Homo sapiens: one gene and its partners. The protein of the gene in region 1 purifies or fractionates together with the protein of each later gene. This does not show direct contact. Each region holds a gene or a part of one and is shown on either strand. Other genes may lie near its edges.

What was found.
Region 2: the proteins of IL9R (region 1) and ABCB10 purify together in Homo sapiens (affinity purification with mass spectrometry, with the first as the bait; one large-scale study listed by BioGRID). This does not show direct contact.
Region 3: the proteins of IL9R (region 1) and TMEM39A purify together in Homo sapiens (affinity purification with mass spectrometry; 2 studies listed by BioGRID and IntAct, with this or other methods). This does not show direct contact.
Region 4: the proteins of IL9R (region 1) and ZDHHC18 purify together in Homo sapiens (affinity purification with mass spectrometry; 3 studies listed by BioGRID and IntAct, with this or other methods). This does not show direct contact.
Region 5: the proteins of IL9R (region 1) and DHRS7 purify together in Homo sapiens (affinity purification with mass spectrometry, with the first as the bait; one large-scale study listed by BioGRID). This does not show direct contact.
Region 6: the proteins of IL9R (region 1) and DGCR2 purify together in Homo sapiens (affinity purification with mass spectrometry, with the first as the bait; one large-scale study listed by BioGRID). This does not show direct contact.
Region 7: the proteins of IL9R (region 1) and TMEM131L purify together in Homo sapiens (affinity purification with mass spectrometry; one large-scale study listed by BioGRID and IntAct). This does not show direct contact.

What each region holds. Positions count from the first base shown.
Region 1 is NC_000023.11:156,007,321-156,011,783, reverse strand, and holds the end of IL9R (interleukin-9 receptor isoform 1 precursor), read right to left. Parts: intron 4,262-4,463; coding exon 4,177-4,261; intron 3,886-4,176; coding exon of another isoform or gene 3,649-3,885; exon of another isoform or gene 1,969-3,648; coding exon 1,375-1,968; 3' UTR 967-1,374; downstream 1-966.
Region 2 is NC_000001.11:229,516,082-229,518,394, forward strand, and holds the end of ABCB10 (ATP-binding cassette sub-family B member 10, mitochondrial), read right to left. Parts: coding exon 2,098-2,313; 3' UTR 501-2,097; downstream 1-500.
Region 3 is NC_000003.12:119,460,459-119,465,533, forward strand, and holds the start of TMEM39A (transmembrane protein 39A), read right to left. Parts: upstream 3,158-5,075; 5' UTR 2,878-3,157; intron 1,691-2,877; 5' UTR 1,617-1,690; coding exon 1,504-1,616; intron 1-1,503. UniProt on the Homo sapiens protein: Regulates autophagy by controlling the spatial distribution and levels of the intracellular phosphatidylinositol 4-phosphate (PtdIns(4)P) pools.
Region 4 is NC_000001.11:26,825,165-26,829,946, reverse strand, and holds the start of ZDHHC18 (palmitoyltransferase ZDHHC18), read right to left. Parts: upstream 3,260-4,782; 5' UTR 3,143-3,259; coding exon 2,808-3,142; intron 1-2,807. UniProt on the Homo sapiens protein: Palmitoyltransferase that catalyzes the addition of palmitate onto various protein substrates, such as CGAS, HRAS and LCK. Acts as a negative regulator of the cGAS-STING pathway be mediating palmitoylation and inactivation of CGAS.
Region 5 is NC_000014.9:60,154,981-60,159,321, reverse strand, and holds part of DHRS7 (dehydrogenase/reductase SDR family member 7 isoform 1 precursor), read left to right. Parts: intron 1-3,169; coding exon 3,170-3,322; intron 3,323-4,341. UniProt on the Homo sapiens protein: NADPH-dependent oxidoreductase which catalyzes the reduction of a variety of compounds bearing carbonyl groups including steroids, retinoids and xenobiotics.
Region 6 is NC_000022.11:19,115,346-19,119,686, forward strand, and holds part of DGCR2 (integral membrane protein DGCR2/IDD isoform 1 precursor), read right to left. Parts: intron 1-4,341. UniProt on the Homo sapiens protein: Putative adhesion receptor, that could be involved in cell-cell or cell-matrix interactions required for normal cell differentiation and migration.
Region 7 is NC_000004.12:153,580,911-153,585,251, forward strand, and holds part of TMEM131L (transmembrane protein 131-like isoform 1 precursor), read left to right. Parts: intron 1-496; coding exon 497-650; intron 651-2,279; coding exon 2,280-2,338; intron 2,339-2,653; coding exon 2,654-2,762; intron 2,763-3,924; coding exon 3,925-4,021; intron 4,022-4,341.

The DNA of each region.
Region 1 (4,463 bases):
CCTTGCCAACTGTCTGAAATAAACTAAGATAAGCAGCATCCCGCCATAAGTCTTACTGACGGGAGTTGACTCCATCACCTGCTTGTGCACAAGGCCAGGAGAATGACCCTGGTCTTATGATAATACTAAAGTCCTCACCCAGGGAGGGGCTTATCTGCCATTTTCTGATCATGCAACGTATGTGTTAGCATGCGTCTGAGCACCCTTCGCTCCACCCCATATGTGCAATGACACTCATGTAGCTCATAAATTATGTATGTCACCCTCCTTAAGACACCACAATGCATTCCCCTTGGGGAGTCAGCCAAGAATTCTTCCTCCTGCACCGTCTCTCTTCTGCCCAAACTTTCGGGGCATAAGACTTAATAAAGTCTTGTCTGGGAAGCTTCCTTGGCCTAATATCAACTTCTGTTTCATGGGAGCCCAAGAACATGTGGTTGGGAACACTGCCAACATCTTTATTTCCAACTTCTGGACTTCAGAATTGTGAGACAACAAATCTCTGTGGTTCTAAGCTAACCATTTTGTGGCACTTTGTTACGACAGCCCTAGGAAACAAACGCAGGCACGTTCTGCTCCAACTGCCACTCTCTCCAGACCACAGCTCCTCCACAAGCCCACCCCATGAGAGGCTGAGGACAGAAGCAGGACCCTTCACAGGCCACCATCACTGCTGGATGGTCACCCCCAGCACTGACTGTCTGGAAGCTCCAGGCTCAGCTCTCAGTTTCCTGGAGCAAGGGGGAGGATGAGGACAAGGAGGAACGAGGGCACTGGCCTCCCAGGAATTGTCCCTGAGCCTCCATCCTGCTGTCCTGAAGCTGCCCCTGAACCTCCAACTTGCTGTCCCCAGAACTGTCATTGAGCCTACACCATGCTATCTCTAGAGCCCGGAAAGCCCAGGGCTGGACAAACCCCACCCCTCACTCCTCCTCTGGCCCCTTCTCCCAGCCATCAACACTTTGGAACAGCCATCAAGCCCCTTTTAATCTCTAGAAAGGTGCCTCAGTAAGGCACAGAGAGGTCACACCAGGTGGTCATGGTGCCTTACCTGTGTCCACTGGGCCCAGGCTGGCCCTTTAAGGGTATGAGGGCAGAACAGCTGAGAGACCACACCCCACTTCTCAGAGAGGTCAGGGATAAAGAAAAGGGACAATGGAAGGAAGAACTTGTGGCCAGGATGCTGAGGGTAGAGGCTGCTCCCCACAGGCACTGAGCAGAGGGGTTGAGGGGGGAGCCTCCAGCCTCCATCCAGACAGGACCTCTGACCGCTGCTAGGGGCCCCTTCTCAGGAGGTTCAGTCTCAGACAAGGGCTCCAGAAACTTCAGTCCATTTTCCCAAAATGGACATGATGCATCTGGCGAGTCAGGGACCTAGAATGTCCAGGACCGAGCCTTGCTGAGGACAGAAGGGAGCAACATGCCCTGGAGGTCCTCATGCAGCCCAGGCCTCTGGCAGTGACCAGCCAGCACCCAGGCAACTCCTTGCTGGGTCTCCAGGCCCTGATGGTCACAAGAAAGGCCACAGGCCAGGGCTGGGATGGGCCCAGAGCTCTGTGTGTTTCCTGGGAGGGCTGAGAGGTGCCATCCCCCATAGCAGCCCAAGGCACAGTAGTTGTTGTTGTTGCTGCTGCTGCTGCTGCTGCTGCTCCTGCTGCCCTCTGAGTCTGGGGGAGCCGGCCTAGTCAGGGACGTGGGGGCCCAGTCCTCCTGTGGCAGATAGGCAAGCGTCTGTACCCTCCACTCCGTACACCCTGCTGGCAGCACATCCTCTGAGCTCAGGTTCCCCGGGAGCCTGGTCCCAGGGCCCTCCTGTTCCTCCTCCAGGGCCACAGATTTCCAAGGACGCGCTGGGCCACAAGTGAGCAGTGCAGTGGCCTCCTGGACGCAGGGCTCCAAGGCTCCCTGTGGGGTGCCAGCACAGTCCTGGCTCAACAGCACACCGGCCCCGTGGGCCCCCATCCAAGTCTGGAACAGAGCACGGGAGGAGGGAAGGGCTCAGGTAGCATGTTCAGAACTCATCCTGGGAGCAGCTGCCTCCTTTCTGGCAAGCCCAGCATCCCTCCTCCTCCAGGAAGCCCTCCTGAGGTCCACACCCAGAGGCCAAGCAGCGCCTGTGTCTTGGACATTCTGTCTTTCCTCCATGTGCCAGCCCAGCCTCATCACGGGACCCTGAGTCCCTTCAGGCTCCTCAGCACTCCCCCAGCACAGGGCCTGGTGCCCACGGCAGCCTGAACCGAGGTACAGATGGTGATATCTGCCCAGGACAGAGCCAGCTCCTGACAGCATGTGCCTCAGGGCCTTTCAGCAGCTGCAGAGACTGGGCATTCCCAACACACACACACACACACACAAACATACACAAACACACACACACACAGAGACACACACACACACAAACACACACAGATACACACAGACACACACACACGAGACACACACACACAAACACACACAGACATAAACACACACAGACACACACACATAAACACACACACACACAGACATACACACACAAACACACACACACAGACACACACACCACACGAACACACACAGACACATAAACACACACAGACACATACACACACAGACACACAGACACACACAGACATACACACATAAACACAAACACACACACACAAACACACACACAAACATACACAGACACATAAACACACACACAGACACACACACACAAACACACACAGACACACACACAAACACACACAGACACAAACACACACAGATACAGACACACACACAGAGACACACACACACAAACACACACAGACTTAAACACACACAGACACACACACATAAACACACACACACAGACATACACACACAAACACACACACAGACACACACACGAACACACACAGACACATAAACACACACACACACACACACAGACACACACACGAATCGCTGTCAGGACTGGTGACTTTCAAAGCACTCGGCTATGGCCAGCAGACCTGGATCCTTCTGTGGGGCCACAGGAGGCCCCCGCCTCCAAAAGGAAGCTGTTCCCTTGGTGGGACCAGGAGCCTCCATCCCATGCATCACACACACAACACCCTCCATCACTGCAGTGCTCCCTGGAGACCAACCTATGGCACCAGATCCTCACCCGCAGGTCTAAATAACCCGTGGCAGGTGTCCTAGTTCTCTAGGGAACAGCTGGTGCCCGCAACAGGATGACAGTCCAGGGGACAGTCACAATCTGACCTGCTCAGCCTTGTCGTCAGCTGCCCAGGCTCCTGACAGTCACATCTACCACCTTGGGGAAAGAGGGAGACTCTGCCAAGAGCCAGATGCCCGGTTCATGGTTCAAATTATATTTTTGGACAAAAATCTTGAAAACTACGCTCCTCATTGAGAGAGAAAAGGATTTTTCTGCATAGTAAGCTGGAGCCACAGTGTGAAGGGGACAGGGAGGGAAGATTCTGGAGAAGAGTGGTCAGCTTGGCCCAGACCCCAGGGAGGGGCCCTCACTGCCTCTTGTCCTTTGCCCAAAGTGAGGAGTCTGAGGGGAAAAACCAGAGACCACTCACTGGAGCTCTCCCTCTCCCCCTCCTCCCACCCAGGGGGCATGAACCAACAGCCCAGCAGGGAGGGGAGGGGCTGATGCAACCCCCAAGTTGCTCACTGGTGCCTGGGCTGTAGGAGCCCAACATGGGTGGAAGGGGGGGAAGTGCAGAGCCCACTCCTCAGCTGTGGTGCCATCATGTGATCCGGGGAGACCAGGGGACCAGGCAGAGCAGGAGCCCAGAGGCAGTGAGAGCCCCAAGGGCAGCACACACACCACAGACCCTTCCCCATGGCCACAGGACAGACACCTTCGCAGAAGGAGGAGGTGAGGCACATGGTGGGTGCAGAAAGCTGCAAACCAGAGGGGACAGAGATAAGTTATGAGAAATTTACATTTTTTCAATCAACAATGGAACTAGAGACCTGAGAACAAAAAGAAATCAGCAATGGAAAATAAAGCTAATTTTTCCCCATTTGAGATACGCGTATAAATTGAAATTCACTGAATATACAAAAAAGGCTCCAAGCACTGACAAGCCTCCCATACTGGCCGCCAACCCTCAGTGAAAGCCAACATCTTGGGCAGGCCAGAGCTCTGGGCAACCCCTGCCCCCCATGTCCTTCTGTGGTCTCTGCACACACCTGGAAGTTCCCATTGTGTACACTGTAGAGGGGCTGGAAGAACATCGCTGGAGAGGGCACGTTCTGGTAGAAGATTCTCTTCACCCTGAGGCCAAGAGAGGCCAGTCAGAGGCCTATGGCGACCCAGGTGGCCTGAGGTCACTGCAGAGGCTGAGCTTCCTTCCATCAGCAGGAGGTCCGCCCACCTCGTCCCTGCCACTGCCTCTCTCCCATCTCATCACATTCCAACCCACTCTCAGGGCAGGACCCAACTGGGCCTCCTTGCCTAACGGCCGCATAGAACTGAT
Region 2 (2,313 bases), on another chromosome or scaffold:
TACAGGCTTGTCAAAGTATCAAATGTAACATGCAAACACTCTGGAAACAAAAAAGTGATACCAGAACACAGTGTTACAACTACACCTCTTTATGATCCCTAGCTGCATTCTTGTTATTAATTTTCCCCTGCCTTCCCACTCCTTCAAAACTAGAAGCTCCTTGAGGGCAGAAACTGTGGCTTACTCATCTATCAACTTCACAGCACAGTTCCTTGTCCCTGATGTAGGTAGGAGATACTTATTTACTGCAGTGAAACAATTAAACAATATTTGTAAGTAGCAAACAAGTGATGACATTCAACAAACTTGGTAAGGAGGAATGAATGGAACTTTTAATTACAACATGTTTTTGGATATGTGTAATGTTAGTCTTTTCTTTATTCCTGAATCTCCACAGCCAAATTCTACTAAGAAACAATGTAGTGAGAAGTTTTATAAGAAATGACAGACTGCATCTTTGGTTCCTGGGTCATAAAAAAAAAAAAAGTGACAGACACAGATAAAGTTCACTATAAATTTTAATCTATGATATAAAATATTACCTAAAGATAAAATTGAACATCATGTATCAGAAAATAAAACATAACAATGAAATGCAATTTCGTAAATACTTCTATGGCACAAGGATTATTTTCCTCAGATTCAACCTTGTAATTGTGTTGTTTGCTTTCTGAAAATCACACTTTATAAAGAACACAAGTAGAGCTTGTTAAAAATGATTGTCACAGATGTACTGTTTACTAATTCAAAGAACACTATATTCATTCATATCAATTTTATTCATTAATTATGAACAATAAAATATAATATTCCATGCTTTTCATGAAATAGTGGTTTCTTCTTCCAGTCTAATCAGGGAACTAATAAATGCTTAGTTCATGGGAAAACTTCCATTTGATTTACATTGACTTAATTACTTCTTAGGGTCTAGCCTCATCCATGGAGAAAAAGCACTTTTTCTTGAGGCAACAGCAAATTAACAGCACTGATACAAAATATGGCAAATTCAATGGTTGTAGCATTGCTTTAGGAATTTTGAGACTATAAATAAAACTATAACCATAAATAAAAGGGCTTATTAATATCTTCTTTTCAGGAGAGTGATACATTCTGAAGTTTTCTTGTTATTCTGTTGAATAGCAAGGACTTCCAAACTTAAATGTCTTAAGGCTGAAAATTAGTTATATTCCTCAAATTTTAGCCTTATTAATGAAATTCCAAAAGTATTATAAAATAAGATTCAATTTGTCTTGAAATTATAAATTTGTAACAGATATTTTTCAAAATACATGCCTTCAAACAACTTAAATGCAAAAATCATTCATTCTTAATAATACCTAGCAGTTCATGCCTTGCTTCGCAAAAGTACTCATACAAACATGTGAATTTAAAAAACATGTTTTCCTGTTCAAAAAATAAAGCTTCTGCCCTTTTAAAAACTTGTCAGGCTTTCATGTGCCAAAATGTTGAAAACTGCACATATTCAAACATAGTTCCCATAGGAACACATATTCCTCAGCTCTCACACCTTTGAAGACACAGGAGATGGGCAATATAAATGTTCCCTTCTTTCCAGCTGATGTTAAATAGTTAGGTTTGCTTCATGAGATTATCGGAATAAAGGGTTAAATTTTCAATTTCCATTATTCTATCTGTAAAATTAGACTTAAAAGTAGGTAGAATACTACCAGAAGAATTACACAGTGATTGGTAAACTGGCCTAAAATAATCAGGCTTTTTATTTATAATTGCCTTTTTAAAGTTGTCATTTGACAATAGCTTCAATCTTTAACAGCAGGCAAAAGAAAATGAGGTGCCATGCTATATTAATTAAAATATTCCACAAGAAAAGAAAATACAAAACCTGAAAATAACTTCAGTGCTATAGACATTTAAAAAGTTACAATTATTAAAACTCTGAATAAAAAGATCTTGAGAACAGGTACGTTTCAAAACAATCTTTTACACACTTTGGAAAAAAATAGGTATTTTTCAAATAACTTGATATATGGTTTATGTATTTCATAGTCTCTGAGTTTTTTTTCTGCAACACTGTTTTGCATTAAAGTCTCATATTGTTTACCAGTAATTGCTTCCTTATGCTGAAATAAAACTTTGTTTGTTCATTAGTTTTCTGTATATCCCATTTGGTTTTGAAAGCAGCTCTTCATGTTTTCCATATTCAGTAATTTTTCCTTGGTCAAGAACAGCAACCATATTAGCATTCTTAATGGTGGACAGACGATGGGCAATAACTAACACCGTTCTTCCATCCATCAGTCGATCTAGAGCTTCTTGAACAAGGTACTCATT
Region 3 (5,075 bases), on another chromosome or scaffold:
TTCCTTTCCTCATGATATTTTACATAGTATCTTAATATTTAAAACACATAGGAAAATGAGTCAGTCTAATTAAAAGAAGACGAGGAAAACTCAAGCCTAGACTGTTAGGCTTGCCTGATCCATTTTCCCTTCTAAGCCCTCCTACAGCAACCCCTGAGACACTGAAGAGGGATTTCATGGGACAGTCTAAGAACATTTTTATCTAGAGAACATAATTATCTAGAGGAATCCTCAAAGCCAAAGTCAAAGAGAACGAACAAAGAACTGCTAGAGTTAGGAGGCAAAGTTAGAATTTTTTAGTTGGCTAGAATCCTAGTTAGGGACAGCTAAGATTTTCTATCACAATTTGAAAGTACTGAATCAATAAGTTGATAGCATATATTAATAAAATTAAGGCATGTACCTCAAAGAGCAAACAACTTTTATCTCAATACCTATATTAGATAGTACCTTTCTTCAAAAGCATTTTCGCATATTCTCATTCTTATTTTTAAGTATATAAAATAATACTTATTTGTAGAAATTTTGTAAAATTCAGTAAAGTTTTTTAAAGTTACTGCAATTTACTACTTCATTTATTTCAACATCCTGCTATGATGCAAACAGTACCATCATTTTTAAAATAAGGAAATCCAACGAACGGCAGAGTAAAAAATACTCTAGCATAAACTAGTTACTCTGTATACATACATAAACAAAACTCGGATTAAAAATTAGTATGAGAATCGGAGACTGGAAAAATCCCTTCAAACTGGAATTTCAGGGAGAGCTCCACTGAAATGATGAGATCAGAACTAATTTTAAAGATTGGGTGGAAGAGGGATTGGAAAGTCAGGAAAAAAAAAGGACAAAGGTCAGGCCTAGAAAACAAAAGTGCATAAATACCATTAGACAGGCCTGAAAATACAGTAGTACTGATTGCTAGCTCTGAAAATTAAAATCAAGACAAGAGAAAAACTTTTTTCAGGGAGGAAGGAGAAATTAGCTGGCAGAAAATATCTTGAGCAAATACTTCATTAGGTAAAAGTATCTCTTTGAACTGCTACATTATCAAACCTCCTGATGGCATGGGCTAACCCAGCTAAAAAACAGCTAACATTTATTAAGACCAAACAATTTTTTGACAATTTAAAATCCTTGATGGAATTTGACTTATAATTTGCCCTCTAAAAAAAGAATGCTTATAAGTAGATAAACCATCACACTTACCTTGTATTTTCATTCACTTCTCCCTTCTTCTAATAGATAAAAAGGGGATAACAAGAATTTAGATGATCAGCCAAAATAAAGAATGGGACTGCTTTCACTTTGTGGGCCCCATTTCACATCTTTTTACCTCCAAAGTATTTTGGAATTCTGAATTTTGTCTTGAAGGGCAGGATTTCTACCACAGTGTCAAGAATAAATCTCAATAAGCAAATATCTGAATGACATGATGACTTTTATGTTAGTCTTACTGATCAAAGGACATTAAAATTATATATAGCCTTATTTTTTCTTTACCTGTTTCTCAAGCCTGTTCCATTGCCACAGCCTCCACCAACCAAAGTCTGCAAAGAAGGTAAAGCTGAACGGCTTAGCTGTTGCCGACTAGGGCCCCTCCTTCCACCGGGCATGTCCAGGAACCAGTCTGCTTCCAGTGCCACCTGTAGTTGCAACCCAGGTTAATGGTTGTCAACCAGTTTCAACTCTGAACGACAACAAAAACATTTAAACATCAGTAGACTATTTTTAAAGTAGGCAACAAAACAACGACAAACACTGAGTAAGCAGGCCTTACAAAATAAGATTTTCAAACGAATGTTCCCAGTGTCTACTACTTACGTTATTCGAATTAAAGGACTACTCAGACTCTAATGGGTCAAAAGCCTAAGTTCTGATCTAAGCTCTGTTCAGCTTTAGGCAAGTGATGATTTGTGTCTTTTGTCAACTGATTTGTATCATCTGTAAGATATTATAATCAAATAGAAGTTTACAAGAAACATCACACCTTATACATTTCCAGCTCAATGTTTCACACTTAAACTACTTGAAATATAGAAGAATTGGCACTTTATAAAACATTAGGTTTTGTTATCAAGGGATATGGCTTGTGAGCTCAGATGGTCACATATTATCTGACCTTATCCGGATAAGTTAACTTCTGAGTGTGTTCTTCTGAGTGTGTTTCTTCAAGGGGGGGGGGCGGGGGGGGGGAGTGTCCCCTGTTCTGCAGAGGTTGTCAGGACTGAGGAAGTGGAATGAAAGGGTACCAGTAGTTCTTTTAACAGTTTAAAAGTAAAACTGTTCGAGTGGTATCTCTATATGTTAGGGTTAAAATATTGAAAGAAACTCTTCAAGGGGATGCCCGCTCCAGAAAAGCTGGTGTAAAATCATACAGAAATTACTGAAACTGCAAGATTAAGAAGCAAGTAAAAGATAAAGATCCTCACTGGAAAAAAAAAAAAAAGCTCTTTTCATCATTCTACGGCAAAAATCATGATTCTGTCAACATGGATACCAATGTTTCCTAAACAATACAACTAAAACCCAAGGATGACACTGGAAAAAACCCGTGTTTTCAAATGCTCCCTATTCCTAACAGCCTTCGGCTGTAAACTAACCCCAAGTCAAACAAAGCATTCAAACCGCTGGATGCAGGGGCTGCTGGTCCTTGCTCCATTAACAAGCAAAGGGAAAGAAAAGTGCAGGGAAAAAACTGGGACGGAAGAGGTGAGAGTATGCGGTGTGGTGGACTGCAGGAGACCACAAACTTCAACAGACTGGTCCCTAAGAGAAGTCGGCAGAAAGGTAGACAAAGCAGTCTCCGCCGCACACCCAAGAGGGCCGAGGCAGGTCCAGGACAGCCGGACCTTGGGGCAGCTCAGTAATACTCACGCATGGAAGAGTCCCAGCCGGTGGGGCGGGGTCCCTAGAAAGCGGCGACAACTTTACAGACTGGACCCCAGGTAAGGGAACTCCCTCCCAGCGTTGGAACGCTGCAAACCAGCTGCTTGGACGCAGGCAGCCCCCGCCTAGAGAATCAAGAAAAGGTGTCCAGGCTTCGGGCTGCCAGACTCAGACCCAGACTCCGACGCAGTTCCAGTGCCAGAGCTAAAGCTAGAGCCAGAGCCTGATACTTCAGCACCCATCCCTAGCCTCCATTACCGCGGAGCTGAGCAGACGTGGCAGCGCACGGCGATGACGTCAGCTACGCGACCGCGGTCTGCCCCAGCCGCGAGTGCGTCCCCGGAATCAGCCGGCACGACAACCCCTACCATTTGCACCTGCGCAGTGGGGCGCGCCTTCTCCTCTTAACTCGCGGTCCCGCCCCTTCCGGCCAGTGTTGGCCAAAGCATTTCCTCTTTCGGCCTCAGTCAGCTAGCGGCTGCTAGGTGCGGGCACCATGCTACTGATCCTTCTTGCTGTCTCTTGGACTCCATGTAGTAACCATGTACAAGTTATCACCGCCATTTTACAGATGAGTGTAGATTAGGAGGTGTCACCTAGGGTCACGTTACTGCTAAGTGAGGGAGCCCAAGTCATGAAGTCATGCGTCAGCATCCAACCCTGCGCTTATTGTTTGCTAAGAACTAGACAGATGCTGTGGTTACAAAGCGAATACCACAAAAGCTCAGAGTCTAGTGGAAGAGAGGCGACACTAAGAAAATACAGTAATTACCATTTGTTACAATATTAAAAGTGTGTCCAAGGTCCAGAGATAGCATGTAACACTAACGAATTCTGTGGGATGGTGGTGATGTCAATACCAAGAAAAGCTTTGCAGAGAGCTTGGGGTTTCAGCCAAGACTCCACAAAGGCATAGGGGCTTTGTGGGAGAATGGCAGTCCTCCTGGAGAAGTGGCAGATAAAAAGGTAAAGATCTGTGAGCAACGTCATCTTGAGTTCAGGAATTGACAATAGTTTGGTATTAGAAGAAGATAAGAGTGTCAAAAGGAGCATTTGTGTAATCTTTCACTCCAGAGATTTTAATCTCCTTAATAGAAAGTTGTTTGTATTGATTGAATGATTAACCTTTATTAAGAATTTTGTTGTGTCAGGCACTGGATTAGTAGCTTTACACATTTCATTTAAATCTCACATTTTGATAGCTTCTACTATGGTTATTATTTTACAGAAGAAACTGAAGTTAAGAGAAGTTAAGTAGCTTGTTGAAAATAGCCTGCCTGGCCAGGCAGGGTGGCTCATGACTGTAATTCCAACACTGGGAGGCCAAGGCAGGAGGATCACTTGAGCCCAAGAGTTTGAGACCACCCTGAGCAATATAGTGGAACCTTGTCTCTATGAAAAAAGTAAAAAAATAAATCGGGCATGGTGGCTCACACCTGTAGTCCCAGCTACTTGGGAGGCTGAGGTGGGAGGATCACTTGAGCCCTGGAGGTCAAGTTTGCAGTGAGCCGAGATTGTGCCACTGCACTCCAGCCTGGGCAACAGAGAGAGACCCTGTCTCAAAAATAATAATAATAATAATAGAAAAAAAAGAAAATAGCCTGGCTAATAAGAGCCAGAACCAGAATTTAGAGCCAGAATGACTGATATCGAAACCAGTAAAGTTGCTAATATTCCCAAATATTCCTAATGTCCTAATGTACCACAGAGCTGTCACTTAGGAATACACACAAGTCTCCAACTTAGGATGGTTTGACTCACAATTTTTCAACTTTATGATGGTGCAAAACCAACACTCATTCAGTAGAAACTGTACTTCCAGTACTCGTACAACCATTCTGGTTTTTTTTTCATTTTTAAATACAGTCATGTGTCCCATAATGATGTTTCAATGAAAGACCACATAAATGATGGTGAGCCCATGAGAGTATAATAAAACTGAAAAACTCCTATTGCCTAATGATGTAGCTGTCTTTATGTTGTAGTGCAATGTATCCTGGTGTACACAAACCTGCACTACCAGTTGTATAAAAGTATAGCACATACAATTATGTACAGTATAACATACTAAATAATGATAATAAATTACTTTGTTACTGGTTTATATATTTACTATACTATACATTTATTGTTATTTTAGATTGTACTCCTTCTACTTATTTTAAAAAAATGAAAGTTAACTGTAA
Region 4 (4,782 bases), on another chromosome or scaffold:
ATGCAATCAGACTTGTGTGGGGGGACAGAGAAGACTTGAAATCTAAGACTTGTAGAGCCTGCAGGAACCACCAAGTCCTAGCCTCCTGATTTGCCAGAGGCTAACAGCTCTCCCAGGCCCACAGCTAGGTTCAAGGTCATCTAGCCAGCCAATGACAGAACTAGGGTTTCCAGCCTCCCAGCAAATACACTGTCAATTAATTCAAATACACTGTCAATTCATTCATTCAATAAGTATTGAGCACCTACTGCATACCAGGTGCGAGTTCTAGGCACTAAGGGTGCAACAGAGGAGAATGTCCTGCTCTCATGGGCAAAGACCAGAAACTAACAAGTATACCATAATATGTCAGGTGGTGGCAAATGCTTCAGAGAGCGATAAATGAGGGGAGAAGAGAGGTGCAGGAGGGGAGTGGTTTGCTATGCTGTGCGGATGGACAGGGGAGGCCTAATGTGAGAGAGTGAGCCATGAGGCCACCTGCAGGAAGGGGATTCCAAGCACTGGCCCAGAGGTAGGAGTGTGCACGGAGGATGACATGCCTGGAGGGAAGACGGGGACAGAAGACAGCAGGGGACAGAGGCCAGGGAGGATTCAGGCCTGAGTTAGAATCAAAAGGGCACTCTGGCTGTTGTGTGGGGGCGAGAAGTAAGGCAGAAGTTGGGAGCCCTGCTGGAGGCCTGTGCAACAATCCACCAAGCCAAACAAAGAAGCAAAGCCATTCATAGCAGGAAAGGCTTAGAGAGCACCTTACCTTTTCCCAGAGCAATGGGGAGCATCCAGTCCAGACCCAGGTGAGCTCTCGGCCCAAACCCAAACTCTTCTGCCAATCTACCAGCCCCCAATGAGGACAAGCGGGGACAAACTGCAACATGGTTCACGAGCTCTCCCCAAACCCAGAAGTCCTTGCTTTCTCCCTCGCTGGGGACAAAACAGTCACCAGTGAAGATACCCGGTCAACCCAGAGAAGGTCCTGCTTCTAGTTCAGAAGTTAGGCCAGATATCACACTGCAGGGTCATGTGGGTCAACCACGGCAAGTACTGCTTCCTCCTGCCTCGGCTGCAGCCCTGGGTGTGGGGACTGAGAGGGCAGCCCAGGGGATACTAGAAAAGGCATTTCCAAAACACTCATGTGGCCAGCCCAGGGAAGTGGATCTGAAACTCAGCCCAGAGCTGAGCTCTGGGCCCCCCAGAGCTTCTGCTTGTAAATCATCCCTGAACTTTTTATCCACCCTACTCAAAAAAAAGGGCAGAGTGTGTGGTTAAAGGGTAAAGGGAGAAGCTAATTTATAGGAAGTCTTCACCTTGCTTCAAGGGGAAACCCAAAGTTGCAGATACATGATCTGGCAGCTAGAAAGGGTACCTGGGGGCGGGTGTCTCTATGATAGCCTTACCATGGCCACATGCCCTTGGGAAGTGTTTTTTGATAAAGACAACACAAGTACTAATAGCAGCCAACATAGTGTGCTTGTTACTGGGCTAAAAGCTTGCATGTGTGACCTCATGCCACCCTCAGGACAACCTTACGGGGTGGGTACTATTATAAATCCCATTTTACTGATGAGGAAACTGGGGCACTGAGGGGGTGAAGTGACTGCCCTGAGGTCACGCAATTAGTGGGTGGTGGAGCTGGGATTTGAACCAGGTCTGTTAGAGTTCTTAACTACACTGTATAATTAAGAGGAACAACCACAAAGGATGGGGAGTTGGGAGGGGACAGCAGGGCTTATGAAGCAAGGGTGGGTGGGTGGGCGTGTGAGTGTGTGTGCAAGGAATCACAGTGCAGGTGGCTCAGAGGTGGGTGGAAAACTTCTAATACAAATATATGACCCTCCATCCATAAAATGGAGATTATGTGTGGGCCAATCCTGGGTCACCGGGGGATATGAAGAGGACAAAAACCTAGGGGGGCAAATATGACCTGTCACACGAAAGCACTCCGAAGTCTTTCCTGAAAAACAACAAGGCACCGCAGCTGTTGCTGATGTGGAACAGGCCAGAGGGACGTTCCAGAATGTTGAGCAGGGAAAGAAAGCCAGGTGGTCAGCAGGGGGGCCAGGGGCCTGGGAGCCGGCTGGGTGGAGGCGGGCGGGATCTGAGGGAAGGACAGGAAGCTCTGGAGAACCTAAGGAAGGTTCTGGAGAAGGAAAGGGGGCCCGAGAGGCCCAAAGATTTTGAGAAAAGATGCCTTGGGGCCTAGGGTGTGCGTGGCTGAGGGGAAGCAAAAGCGGGGTTGGTGTCTGAGACTAGAGAAAAGGAGGGGACCCTGGAGGGACCCGGAGAGGGCAGCGAGGATGACTAGGATGTTTATGGTGGGTGTGCACAGCCAAAGGACACACAAGATCTAGAAGTGGTCAGGAAGGGATACAAGGGTCAGAAAGAACTTGGGGGGTTGGCAAGAGATGGTCCAGGGATGGGTGAGCAGGAGGGGCCTGTTCAAGAAGCCCTGGGGCAGGTTCTGAGAGGGCAGCGAGGATGGGGGCCGTGGAGGGGCATGGAGGCTGGTGTTCCTGGCAGTGGCAGGCAGACAGGTGCCAGGGTGGGGTCAGGGAGAATGGAGGGGCTGGGAGGGTGGAGGGCACCAGCGCGGATGGGGTACCCAAATGGACCAAGGAGGATGGGGCATCTGGCGGGGATGGGGGTGCGCAGGGGCCAGGGGGGCAGACAAGAGGCCCGAGGAGGATCCCAAAGGGGCGGGGAGGATGAGGACCAGGGAGGCGAAGGGGAAGGCACGGAGTGCCCAGCAGGGATTGGGAAGGTGGGGTGCGCGGCAGGGGGCTGGGAGGGGGCGCCGAGGCAGCGGAACTCACTCAAAGACGAAGAAGAGGCCGGTGGTGGTGAGGATGAGCAGCAGCGTGAGCGCGAAGACGCCGCCGTGGCCGGCCAGCATGAGGCGGCCGCCGCAGTAGAAGCGATTGCGACCCGGGAACACCTCCCACTTGCGCCGTGGGCGGCGGCCGAGGCTCCCGCTCCCGCTGCCGCTGCCGCTGCCGCTGCTGCTCCAGCGCGGCGGGGCGGGGGCGGCGGGCGGCGCGGGCCCGGGGCCCGGAGTCGGGGACGCGGCGGGGCCGGGACGGCGCGCCCCCGGGGAGGCGGGCAGCGGGGCGGCCCCGGGGCTGATCTGCTGGTACTCGCAGTCCTTCATGCAGCCAGCCGCGGGCCTCGGCTCCGCGCCCCGCGGGCCGGCCGGGCCACTCCGGGACCGGGCCGAGCAGCGGAGGTGGCAGCGGCGGCGCGCGCGGCGCTCGCTCGCTCACTCACTGGGGCGGCCCCGCCATCGCTCCGCCCCCGGCCCGCCGCCACCGCCCGCCGCGGCCTCCCGCCGCAGCGCCCCCTCCGCCTGGGCCCGGGATGGCGCTTGGCCGGAGGCCCAGCTCTGACCCGCGGCGGGGCCCCGCAGGTCCCCGGCCCTCCCAGTCTCCCTTTTCCCTTCTGCACAAAGAGGGGGCCAGCAGACGCGCACTCGAGGGCTCTTTCTGTTCTGCAAGCAAGCCGTTTGTTGGGCGTCCACTGTGTACCAGGCACGGTGCCAAACGCCGAGATTCAGGTGGTGGACTTCGTGATCTACTTCTGGCAGTCTGTAATTCCCCAGGCTTCGCCCATCTCTGAGGGTCGAACTGACAGGCATTTGCAGAGGCAGGCAGGCGCGGGGAGGTGGGGCACACGATTTGCTTTGAAAGCCAGGACCTCTTCTACCTTGAAGTCCAGAGTGCCCACTGGAGGTGTGTGGCACACCCTCTGGCCTCGTTCACCAAGTTCTGTGTCCTGGGCCCAGGCCCAGATTTTCCTAGGTAGCACATAATGTAGAGGGGTCATGCCTGAGGGCCCCAGTGTTTTTTCAGGAATTCTGGGAGTATTCATTTTCTACTGCTGTGTAACAAGTTACCACAAATTTAAGGCTTAAAACAAACATTATCGGCCGGGCGCGGTGTCTCACGCCTGTAATCCCAGCACTTTGGGAGGCCGAGGTGGGTGGATCACAAGGTCGAGAGAGACCATCCTGGCCAATATGGTGAAACCCCGTCTCTACTAAAAATAAAAAATTAGCTGGGCATGGTGGCACGGCATCTATAGTCCCAGCTACTCGGGAGGCTGAGGCAGGAGAATTGCTTGAACCCAGGAGGTGGAGGTTGCAGTGAGCCGAGATTGTGCCATTGCACCCGGCCTGGTGACAGAGCAAGACTCCGTCTCAAAAAAAACAAAAAACAAACGTTATCTAACAGGTTCCAGGTCAGGAGCCAGAGAACAGCTTAGCTGGGTCCTCTGCTTAGTCTCACAAGGCTGCAATCAGGCTGCATTCTCATCTGGAGACTCAGCCAGGGAAGAATCCACTTGCAAGCCCATTTGGGTTATTGGCAGAATTAACTTCCTTGCGACTGTTTAACTGAAGAGGGCCTGGGATTTTTGCTGGGTGACTGTATAACTGAGGAGGGCCTGGGATTTTTGCTGGGTGTCTGCTGGAGGCCTCTCTCAGGATCCAAAAGCCACCTGCAGTTCCTAGAGATTATCACATTTCCTTGCCATGCAGGTTTCTCCTACATAGCCACTTAGTTTCTTGAAACTGACAATGAGGGTCTCTAGCTCCAGACTATGATGATAGAGTTTTATATAACTTACTATATATGTGACAGAGTGGCATCCCATCATCATTGCCATCTCCTATGGTTAAAAGCAAAGCACAGGAGCCATCTGCACTCAAGAAAAGGGAATCACACAAGGCGTAAATACCAGGAGGCAGGAATCATTGGGGGTCAGCTTAGGGTATGTCTGTCACACTGTGGTTAC
Region 5 (4,341 bases), on another chromosome or scaffold:
TTTTGCTTTTTGTGTCAGTTGTTTGAAAAACACTAGAAGCTGACATGAAATTTTCTGTGTATTGTCTAAGAAACTTGGTTTTCTGATTTTAGCTTGAGATTTTCTTCCGTAACCGCATCTCCTCTGACAGGGAGATCTTGAAGTGTATGTTGGGGTTCCAACACTTGATTAATAAGCTGTGTTTTTCCCTCCAATTCCAAATGATTTTCAGCATCAACTGCATCCATGTCAATATTTGTCGTCTTGGGTAACAAACTTTTGGGCCTTGGATACAAAATCCTTGATGAATGTTTGAGGTGCTGGGAGAGGAAGGGATGGGGAGGATGCCTCAGGCTGGACACTTGGACCCACCGACACCAGAAGTTTGATTTCTTCTTTGTCAAACCACAAGGCAGGATTACTGCCCACTGCTACTGGTTGATAGCATTTAAAAGCTTATCATATCAGTATAAAAAAGATCCCTGGAATGATTAGACTTTCCCAAAAAAGGAGCTGAAGCCTTCAGAGATAATTAGCTTCCTCATCCTGTGAGGGAATTAGAGATGGGTCAAGGGCTTGAGAAGAGAATTCTCAAACTGGAGTGGGGGTTGAACTATCACTTTCCTTTCAACTCTTAAGAATCTACTTTCAGGGGCTCTTAAAGGGAGGCCATTATGTATACCAGATTCTGTGGAATCGGGAAACAAACGGTGCTAAATAAAAAAGTTTCTTCAGGGTGGGAGGAAGAGGCCAGAATTGTGATTGTATTAAAAGTTTACACCATCAGCTTTAAATATTTGCTTATGTGTGTAAATATCAAGAGGTCTTTGTTAGCTCGACACTAGTTAGTAAATCCTGTGTTTCTAAAACAAATGATATTCACTCTAGAGTGTGATGATTGCAGAACTTGGGAACAACAAGTAGTCAATGAATGAATAAATGATTATCTGAATAGATGTTATGTTGTTCTTGATAAAGTCCTATAGGAAGGTGGCCCAATTGTGCCTTTTCACAAAAGTACGTTATATGACAGGAAAGCATTGTAGCCCAGACATAGTATTTGGGATGTTTCCATCCTTAGTTGAGATTTTTTTTTTTTTTTTTTTTTTTCCGACAGAGTCTCACTCTGTCACCCATGCTGGAGTGCAGTGGAGCAATCTTGGCTCACTGCAACCTCTGCCTCCCAGGTTCAAGCAATTCTTGCACCTCAGCCTCCTGAGTAGTTGGGGTTACAACGATGCGCCACCACACCTGGCTAATTTTTGTATTTTTCATAGAGAACAGGTTCCATCATGTTGGCCAGGCTGGTCTCGAACTCCTGGCCTCAAGTGATCTGCCCGCCTTGGCCTCCCAAAGTGCTGGGATTACAGATGTGAGCCACCGTACCTGGCCTTAGTTGAGATATTTACATGGAACCTTTTTCTTAAGGACAAGTGGTATTTTCTTGAATGTCTAAGAAACAGTTGGGTTTTAAAATATTGATCATATGTAAATGTGTATATCATGAAATAGTGGACAGTGTGGGCTTTGGAGCTAGATATACCTGGGCTTATATCCCGGCTCTGCCAGGGTTCTTGGGTGTTTATTCAGTAGTTATTTATGGAGCCTTTTCAATATTCCAGTCTTTGCTAAGCACTGAGGCCACAGCAATGAACAAGGTAGACAGGGTCCTACCCTTAATGGAATCTATGGTCTAGTGGGACAAATTAATCTCTGTAAACCTCAGTTACCTTTTCTGTAAAACTGAGATAATAATACCTTTCCATACAGTTCTGGTGAGGCTTTTAGTAGACAATGTGCTAAGTACATAGGAAGTAATGTAAAAACGTTAAGCCATTAGAATTGGTAACTCTGTTTTCCTGGCTGGAGAAGTTAGGAGACATACGTTATTAAGTGACTGTTCTATGTTTTGCTGTAGTAAAGTCCATCTGTTAAAAAACTTGAGCAATAATTATAATTGACGTTTATTAAACACTGAGTATGTACTAGATACTGCCCTGAGTGCTTTCCATGTTTTAACTCATTTCTCAACAATCCTGTGAAGGATGTGTTCTTATTCATCACATTTCCAGTTGTGGAAAATTAAGGCACCAAGTTCTCACCTGGGAGCATTTCAGTGCTGTGTGTGATGGAGCTGGCATTTGAACCCTGGCAGTCTCCAGGGATGGTACTGTTAACATCACAGTTAGGATTTAGAGCTGTTTAAAACAGTACAATCATTTCCTGATTTTAACTTTTCTGATCTAAAATCGGAAATGTGATGTTAAGTGATACGATATTTGATATTTTTGATAAATAACATATATTTTAGTAAATAAGTCACCCAGGAACTTTGCATAACAGTGACTTTACGGGTTCAGAGAGACAGTGAATATCATCTCCTGAAGTGCTAATAAGTTTTTCATTGGAGAAAAGAATAAACCATTTGTCATTGCTTTAGTACTGTAACATTTGTAGTCTTTTAAGAGGAACATAATTGGAGAAGCAGAGTACAATATTTCATCTCTCTGTAATATGCATTTGTTCTTGGGTGAATTACTATATTCTCCTAAGATGAAAGCTCAGGCATCTGGGGAACATTTTTACAAAATGACCTTGAGCTGATAGGCATCAGGCATTATTGGCAAATGGGGAAAATACTACTTTAAAAATCTAGGATGTTTCCATCAACAGCACAGAACTTGGTATATTTAGATTCTTCATCAACCTCCATTGCAAAATATTAGAATAATAGAATTAAAAACTGGATGTGACCTTCAGCCATCATCTAATCTGAATGCCTCATTTAATGGCTAAGGAAAAGTGAGTCCAGACAGTGATTTTTGTATTTACTTAGCCTGTTTATCTTATCTATCATATTTATCTTACCTGTTTGTGTTAAATAGAGCCTTAGAGTGAAACCATGAGGTTATAAGGCTTACCTTGAAGTAAAGTCTGGAAAAGTCATGAAGGTTCTGTAATATACAAATACTGTGTTGATAACTGTTACTAGTATGATTTGTATTAATGCTTTTTTTTTTTTTTAGTTAAGAAGGAGATGCTTTCTTAGAATATTTCAAATTTTAACTCTATACATCATGCCTTCATATTTAGTGGTATTGTTTAAGGCTTTCTTTTTTTTTTCTAATCTTGGATTTATGAGCGTAATTCATTGCTTATTTTCTTCCTTCCATTTACATTCCTTCCATAGAATGGGAGCTGACTGATATGGTGGTGTGGGTGACTGGAGCCTCGAGTGGAATTGGTGAGGAGCTGGCTTACCAGTTGTCTAAACTAGGAGTTTCTCTTGTGCTGTCAGCCAGAAGAGTGCATGAGCTGGAAAGGGTGAAAAGAAGATGCCTAGGTAAGCGGATCTGAAATAGCAGCGGTGCTTCCTAGAAATAAATCAGTCCAAACTCAAATACAGTTTTGGGACTTTTAGAGAGGAGTGAGATTTCCCCCCGGCTCCAAATGTTCTACATGCTTCATCTCAGTTCCTCTCCTTTTTGCCTTAATTGGCTGCCCTCGCCTTTTTCTTCTTTTCTGCCACCTTTCTATGCTTTTTTTGCACTGACTCTTGGCATTAGGGAGTGACCAACAATTATATAAAATGCTGGTGGATTTTTAGTGACCAAGTATCTTAGATTTTTGTCTTAGAGAAAAAACAGTTGGGTTCTTATCCATGACATACATGTATCTGATCATAGAAATTAGGAAGAATCCTTACTCATTTTATTAAAGTATCAGATATTAAAATCATATGGGATAAGACTTATTATATAGGATAAAAGAACAGGAATGGAATTAGCTTTAAAAAATACAACTTGAGGTAATACTTTCATATTCACATAAAGGGCAACAGTGTTAATATTTTTGTTTGAATTTTGGTGTAGTTATGTTTACTTTTTTCTTTTTGAGATGAAGTCTCACTTTGTTGCCCAGGCTGGAGTACAATGGTGTGATCTTGGCTCATTGCAACTTCCGCCTCACAGGTTCAAGCGATTCTTGTACCTCAGCCTCCTGAGTAGCTGGGGCCACAGACGTGCACCACCACACCCAGCTAATTTTTGTATTTTTAATGGAGACGGGGTTTCACCATGTTGGCCATGCTGGTCTCGACCTCCTGACCTCAGGTGATCTGCCTGCCTCGGCCTCCCAAAATGCTGGGATTACAGGTGTGAGCCACCGCACCCAGCCATTATGTTCACATTGAAAGCAACTTCAAGTATAAAGTTATTATTTTTCATGGAACATTTATTAATAGTACCTAAACTGAGATAATTTTGAATTTTCCAACAGACCATTTTTTGGGCCATCTCTCTACCTGTCATTCTTTTAAATCTTTAACTTTGCTGATCGAGCTAACCACCCAGAAATGAGAGT
Region 6 (4,341 bases), on another chromosome or scaffold:
GGATCCACATTAATGAGAAGCCACACTTGCTCTCACCTCTCAGCTCAGCTCCCATCACAGAAGCAAGCTCCTACCAGGGTGGGGCCCAGGCCAGCTGGCTCCACAGCCATGTCCCCTACCCCCGGATCCCATCCTCCCAAGGCATTTTTGCAGGACTGCCACAAGGCTCTCATCCTCCTCGCCACCCCCACCAGAGGCAGCTGCAAGGCCTGCTGGCTAAAGTAGCTGTTGCTCTTTATGTCAAAATATAAATAGGCATTTGTGCATTTGTTCAATAACTGATTTCTGAGTGCCCAGTCTGTGCCTGACCAGGCCCAGGTGACAGAGCATGAATGTGACAAAGAGCAAAACGTGTATGAACAATCCCAGCCCTGTCCAAAGCACCATGGCTGTTTCGGGGGCTCTCAGCAAGTCATACGCAGTCCCTCTGATCCCATCATAACAGCAAAGAGCACTCTCTGTGTGGCAGACACTCCTCAGAGCCACTGTACTCTGCCACCTCCTGAGGGAGCTCTCTCCCGACCAATAAGCCCTGTGCACAAACCACCTCACATTTCACATTTCAGTTCAGGGTTCCTGAACTCTATCTGTGATTAACACTAACATTTTGCCTGATGAAGAGTTTGCTTTATGTCAGACACTTTTTAGAATTTTATACTTACCCATTTTAATCCTCACAACATCTCTATAAAGCTCTGTTACGATGTCCATGTTCCAAATGAGGAAACTGAAGAGTGAGCAGTAGAACAGATTGAGCCTAGGCAGTGTGGCTCTAGAGCCCATGCTCTTAAGCCACCATACCCAACTGCCTGCCATGGGCCAGGATGAGAAGGCTTGATCTAATCCCAGCTGCTACTTTTACAGACAGCTCATTTGAGGCAAAACCAGACCTGAGCTTCCCCATCTCCCAGGAGGATGCCCAGAAGGTCCAGGGCATCTGGGTCCACAGGCTATTCACCCTCCAACCTAGACTTGCCCTGCCAAGCCCGCCATGTCCACACTGACAGGACACACAGCTTGGAATGGCAGGATGAGATGGACTGGCTTTGACTAAACTTCCCAGGACAACTGGTAAATCATGTCAGAAACACAAATACAGGTGTTACACAGCTATCACATAATAACCATACCCAAGCCCATGCATCACTCTGCTCAATGAACTGTTGGCCCAAAACTGGTCTCTCGGGATTACCGAGCCCACTCTGCAGACTGGCAGTGAAAGAAAGGAAAGAGGACGGTCATCAAAACCTCAGCACCCAAACATAACAGCACATAAGAGAAAATCTAATAGCATACCAAGGAAAAGACATCTAATCAGTCAAGAGCTATCTACGGGGTCCTTAAATGTTGTCACTGATGCATTCCACTTAGAGTCAAGAAACTACTAAATGCCAATCGGGTCGTCCTTATGCCAACAACCAAGAGAGGCAGAGGAACTCCCTGCCTGTCAAAGGCTCAGGTCCAGCAGGAGAGAGTCAATAACTAGATCACCTGCCATCAGTGTTGAGAGGATGCATGCACTACTAGATCACCTGTCATCACTGCTGAGAGGACATGCACACAACCGGATCACCTGCCACTACTGCTAAGAGGAAACATGCATAATGAGATCACCTCCCATCACCTCCCATCACTGCTAAGAGGACACCTGCACAACCAGATCACCTCCCACCATGGCTAAGAGGACACGTGCACAGCTAGATCACCTGCCCTTACTGCTAAGAGGACACACACAGATCACTCACCTCCCATTACTGCTAAGAGGATCTGTGCGTAACAAGATTACCTGCCGTCACTGCTAGAAGGACACCTGCACAAACAAATCACCGGCCACCGCTGCTAAGAGGATATAATCACTCAGTACTCTGGGAAGTGGGAAGGAAGGGGTGGGGAAAGTGCCCACAAGCTAGCTTGGGAAGTGGAGCAGCGAAGGCGCAGCCTAACACAGCACAAATCTTCCACAACAGCAGTCTTCATTCCTAAACCCAGAACCGCCAACTAAAACAATAACCCTGACATGCAGTGATGCCAGCTTGCCTCCACCTGGGCCAACCTGGGCTTTAACTACAGGGCTTCCTGCACCCATGAGACCTTCCCACGTGACACAGGGCTTGGCACATAGCAGGTGTTAGTGAGAACGATGGGGTGGGGTTAAGTGGGAGCAGCCTCTACTCTCTGCAATGGTTAACATGTACAAGGATAAACGGCCATGGCGCATACAACTTATTCTCAAATGGTTCAGAAAAAAGCAATGTGTGTGAGTACACAGATATGCACATACACATGGAAGATGAGGGATAAGGCAAATAAGGTAAAATGCCAACAGTAGGGAAGCCTCAGCAAAGGATATGCAGGTGTTCTCTGCACTCACTTTACTCTTGCAACTTTTCCGGGAGTTTGAAATTATTTCCAAATAAAAGTTTTCTTTTTGTCAAGAAAAAAAAGGAAAATTCATTAGCTAGTGAAGGTAGAAAGTATATTACATCACTTTCCAACTAAAAAAAATGAACCTGTTAACCCAAAAGCCAAATCTACCAGTGGACAAACTCTACAAAGTGTCACAGTACTGGCTACAGAGGAAAGCACTCCAAACTCAGGAGGATTTGGCAAGGCTAGGTGCAAGCTCACCTCTCCAGCTACTTCTGAACCTCGGTCACTTTTCCTTGTGATGAAAATATGCACTCTCTCCCTATGCACCAAACCCCTGTGCTACTTCACATGAAAGAAAACTCTGGACTCCAGCCGGGGAGAGGTGGCTCACACCTGCAATCCCGTAACTTTGGGAGGCCAAAGCAGGTGGATCACTTGAGCCCAGGAGTTTGAGACCAGCCTACATGGCCAACATGGTGAAACCCCGTCTCTACTAAAAATACAAAATTATCCCAGCATGGTGGCGTGCGCCGTAATCAAAGTTACTCTGGAGGCTGACACAGGAGAATTACTTGAACCCAGGAGGTGGAGGTTACAGTGAGCTGAGATCCCGCAACTGCACTCCAGCCTGGGTGACAGACAGAAACTCCATCGCAAACAAAAAAAAAAAAAAAAAAAAAAAACAACTCTGGACTCCAGAGCCAAGGTGCTGTGTTCACTTCTCAGCTCCCTGAGATGTGATCAGCTCAGCACAGCTGCCTACTGAAAGCAAAAGAGAAAGAACCCTGAGCTAGCAGCCAGCTCCACCTGGGTCTGAACCCACGCTCTGCTGCTCACCAGCTGTGTGACCTTAGACAAGTCACTTGCCTCTCCCAGCTAGCTGTACCAACAATAGAAGGAAGACGACCTTCTAGTCCTCTACCTTACCAAGGGGCCTAGCTGAGCACAGGCCCTGTACAGGACCAACAACCAGCAGGAAGGGACCAGGGTGCACCAGCATTCAGAAGGCAATTTTTTCTCAGCTATGTATGGTGGGTTCAACCTGGATAGAGCTGTGGCTCATGATATAATTTTGTTTCACAATTAAAGCTAGAAAGAAAAACAGTTTTAGAATCAGCAGTCGATGCTGCCTTCTCTACACAGATGGAGAAAGGGCCAATGAGACAGTATCACAATCAGTGGTCCCCAAATCCCCCCACCATCTCGCTGTCAGTTACCTCAGCAGTAGTCTCCAACCGTTCTTCCTCATCACACCCCCAGTGATCATAACACACATCATCAGTGGTCACATGGCCAAACACAGAAGGGATTTGGCAGAGGGTGAGTGGTTCTGTCCCTCAGACTGGAGTATCCACATGGAAAAAGATTCTGCACCCTCACCTAGAGGACCCTGGGACCTAACAGGGGACAGAGGCAGTCTGTGGCTCCACCTGGGGTTAAGGAAGCTGTTCAGAGCATAATATGAGGTACTCCTGTGGCTGGGCTGGAGACACACAGTTGGAGTGCACAGACCCCAGTCACGGGTGCATGATGGGGGGAAGGCCAGACTCCTACGATGAAATCTCATCTCAGCCTTAGCTTCATGAGTGCTCTGGATTTCAGCTTCCCCATCTTTAAATGAGGCTAAAAACAGCATCTAGCAGGGACCTCTTGAGAGTTAACATATGTTAGTGCTTAGAACAGTGTCCGGCACATGACACATCTTAAATCAAGTTCAAATGTGCACTTAAAAAAAAATTGCTGGGCATGGTACCTCAGGCCTGTAATTCCAGCACTTTGGGAGGCCAAGGCAGGTGGCTCACCAGAGGTCAGGAGTTCCAGACCAGCCCGGCCAACATGGCAAAACCCCATCTCTACTAAAAATACAAAAATTAGCCGAGCGTGGAGGCGTATGCCTGTAATCCCAGCTACTCGGGAGGCTGAGGCAGGAGAATCGCTTGAACCAAGGAGGTGGAGGTTGCAGTGGGCCAA
Region 7 (4,341 bases), on another chromosome or scaffold:
AAAATGTGTAGTGTTTTCTCTCTGCTTTCCTCCTGCCTCTTTGCTTAAAAATAAAACACAAGGCTGGGCGCTGTGGCTCATGCCTGTAATCCCAGCACTTTGGGAGGCCGAGGCGAGTGGATCACGAGGTCAGGAGATTGAGACCATCCTGGCTAACACGGTGAAACTCCGTCTCTACTAAAAATACAAAAAAATTAGCCAGGCGTGCTGGCGGGTGCCCGTAGTCCCAGCTACTTGGGAGGCTGAGGCAGGAGAATGGCGTGAACCTGGGAGGCGGAGCTTGCAGTGAGCCGAGATCGCACCACTGCACTCCAGCCTGGGTGACAGAGTGAGACTCCGTCTCAAAATAAAATAAAATAAAATAAAACACAAAACAGCATATTCTGTTCTCACACACGTCCCATTACGTTAAATGCTTCTCCTTTCCTCCATAGTTTGAAACCACAAAGTTGAGATGATTTTTTTTTTCCTTTTTTCCTCCTCCTTCCAACCATAGGGTTGTTATCTGGAATCTGATGATGTTTTGCGTCTACAAATGAGCATAATGGTAACAATGGAAAACTTTTCAAAAGAATTTGAAGAAAACACACAACATTTGTTAGATCATCTCTCTATTGTTTACGTAGCTACAGATGAATCTGAGACCTCAGGTAAGGTGGAATGTTTAAAAATTTTATTATATTTTCATCAGTCTGCATCATCATTCTATAGCATTTATGAACAGATTGTATCATAGCAAACCAAGACAAATAGCCTTTGCTTTAATTATTAAGTGATTGTAGTAGTAACTGGTTCTCAACCTACAACTGCTAAGAAGGCTGTATTATTTTGGGGAGAAGTGACAACTGCAAACTATTCTGAGTTTCCTTAGGAATAATTTTTCTTCATGTTTGGAGACAGTAAGGAAATTAAATGGGCATGACAGTTTAATATAAATATTTACAAAGTATTTGAAGTCTTGGGTTTCTTGTTCCACTTTTAATGATTTGCCTAAGCTCATTTAACCACATCATGCTGTTTTGTATTTTAAATAGCTAATAGGTTGCGGTTGTTCCTGGATGCTTGACAAGTTAGGTAGAATTTTAGTGTTCAGTTTTATGAATTTTATCTTTGGAAATGTGTGTCCTACTTATCAGAAATAAATGCATTCATCTGTTTAACTTCCTAAGAACTTTTTTCAGAGACACATTCTGTGATCCATGAAATTCCTAACGTAGAGTATACTAGTATCTTTTGGTTATCAAGACTTCTGAATGTGACTGTATATTTGTATTCATATTCAAGAAAGTATGGTTTTTATTCTTTGGGTTTTTTTGTTTGTTTTTTGGTTTTGTTTCTGTTTTTGTTTTTTTTAGACAGGATTTTGCTGTGTAGCCCAGGTGGGAGCACAGAGATGTGATCTCGGCTCACTGCAACCTCAGCCTCCTGGGCTCAAGCGATCCTGCCACCTTGGCCTCCCAAGTAGCTGGGACCACAGGCGCACACCACTATGCCTGGCTAATTTAAACCGTTTTTTTTTGTTGTTTTTTTTTTTTTTTTTTTTTTTTTTGTAGAGACAGGTTCTCCCTGTGTTGCTCAGGATGGTCTTGAACTCCTGGGCTCAAGCATTCCTCCCCGCTTGGCCTCCCAAAGTGCTGGGATTGCAAGCATGAGCCACCGTGCCCTGCTTTGGCAGTCTTAATTGGTTAAACAGCCTTTACCTTTCAGTCTTCAGAGCTGGCTGTGGTAGTGCTGGATCAGCAGGAGAGCTCTCCTGTCCTCAGTGCTTGGTGATTCTCATAGTGGCCAGTGAACATCTATGAGGGCAGATCCCTGACCCATGGGGACCACTTCTGTGGGTGAGGGCTAAAAGGAAGCCTGAAACCTGAGATCTCAGGATTTTCTTCTTTCCAAATGTGGTTATCCAAATGAGGAAATGAGGAGCTTTCTAATCAACAGGAGAACATAGCTTTATTTGAAGTCGTCCAGTTGGTTAGTTTCATTCAGAAGAGCATTGTGTGACCCTAAACTCAGAATTTTGCTCCTGGTAGTTCCTCATCATTTAGAGGGCTTAGGTTGGTAGGCATTTTTATGAGGATCTTTTTTCTTGTGATTAAAAAAGAAAAAAAAAAAGAAAACACCTCCTAGTTTTGATTTCAGTTTTGAGAAACAAGTTAACATTTTTTATAGAAATGTGTAATGTGGTATTTTAATGATTATATGAAGGTGTGAGAATGAGATGGCTCTGTTTTAATCTCTGATTAAATACTCTGCTTTAATACTCTGATTCTTTTGGACAGATGATTCAGCAGTAAATATGTATATATTACATTCAGGAAACAGCCTTATATGGATACAGGTAATTGTAAATGCTTACCTAAAGTAACTTTTAAAATTGCAAGTGTGCATTTAATTGTAGAATATGAGGGTTTTTCAGGAACAGAGACAGAAGCACTATCTTTATTCTTTTTTGCTTTAATTTAAGCCCATTTGCCCTTGCTTGAACCTCTGTTTGTATGAAGATTGTCAGCATCCCCTCCATATGGTTATGGCACAGATGCTGAGCAGTTGCTATGTATGGCTGGTCTGTGCTATTTATTCTAACGGTTCATTCAAACTGGATAAATACTCTCCCAGCTGAGAGTAGTCACATGGGACTTTTCTTTTATTTCAGGATATACGCCATTTCTCACAGAGAGATGCTCTGTCTCTGCAGTTTGAACCAGTACTACTACCTACTTCTACAACAAACTTTACAAAAATTGCTTCTTTTACCTGCAAAGGTACAGATTTTTAAACAGATTGTCATTTGACTTTTGTTATCTGGTTGTCATGATGGCAACTCTTTCTACAACTACAGATTAGGCATGGTTTCAAAAAAGTGAAGGGAATGCGTTTGATTTCAAGAAGTCCCAGCCTTAGTAGTTCTAAGATAGTATGATGTAGAAACTATTGTTGATGCCACTTTTATTCTGCCACATATGTAGAATTTTGAGTTTAAAGCTTAATATTCTGTGTTGATAACGATTAGGAAGGAAAGCACTGTTAGGTTTTTGACAGGAGTCTATGCAGGCTGTTTTTGAGGGAAAATTGGCAAATCTCTATGAAAATTTAAAATGCACATATTTACTCTTTGATCCTTAATTCTAGTTTTAAGAGTTTATCCTCCAGATATGTATGTATTCAAAACTGTACCTATAAGAAATGTGTGTTTGTTAGGACAGAACAGCTGATCATCTGTGTTCAGATGTGAGAGAGTGTTCAGAAACATGCATGGACAGCGATGCGAGCAGTGTGTGTACATTTAATTTTTTTTTAGAGGATATCTGTGTACTTATACATGCACAGAACACCTGGAAGGATGTTGCAGAAACTGCTAACAGCTGCCTCCTCCAAGATAATTGGGAGTCAGGGTGAAGAAAGGTAGATTTTATTTTCACATTTTTTTGTTAGTGTTTGAATTTTTAAAAACCATATATATAACTTTAAAAAAGTTGGTTATTAGCATCAGAGAGTTAAGAATTGAACACAAGCGACTCAATATTATAACCTAATCAAGGAGAGCTTAAAAGTATTATTTTGATCAATCAGCACTGCTTTCAAATGCAGCCCACTTTTTGCTGGTCAGCTCCCTTTTGCTCTTTAGGTTTTATTCCTTTCTTGCTCGTGCCTCCACACATTTTACTCTGCCAAGTGAGCTTCTTGTTTCACTTTTGTCATTTCTGGTAGAGAAGTTGGTTTTTAAAAGTATGGACTTCTGGATAATTGGCAACAAAGAAGATGACAGGAACATTTGAGAAAGTAGTTACCTTTTATGTCTGATTCACTATTTTAATGGAGACAGAAAAGTGAATAAAAATTTATAAATAAGACATATATCTTTTGTTCAGGCTTAATGAAAGAAAAGGTACTTAAGCTTCACATTTATTTCTTTATACCACAAAGCAGCTACATCATGTGACAGTGGAATTATAGAAGATGTGAAGAAAACAACACACACTCCAACACTAAAAGCATGCCTCTTCTCTTCTGTGGCTCAGGGGTAGGTTACTTCCACTTTCCCTGAAATCTTGTATGGTTGTTGTTGTTGTTTTCCCCTCTAGAAATGGTTTAAAAATATAGTGATATGATTTGTGTGATTCTCTCTCTCACTGGCCTTGCCTCCCCTTGCCTTAGCATTGCTAACAGGCAGTGAAAGGGATATTAGCTGAGTGGGGAAAAGGAAGTGAAATAATTCAGTTTATGAAATAGGTTCAGCATCAGGCATCCAGATGTGTGAAAAGAGTACATATTCACATGGTGTTTCTGAGTTGGCTTCAGGTTCTGGTTTGGTCCTGGCGGCCTCTGTGAGCTGTGCTGGCC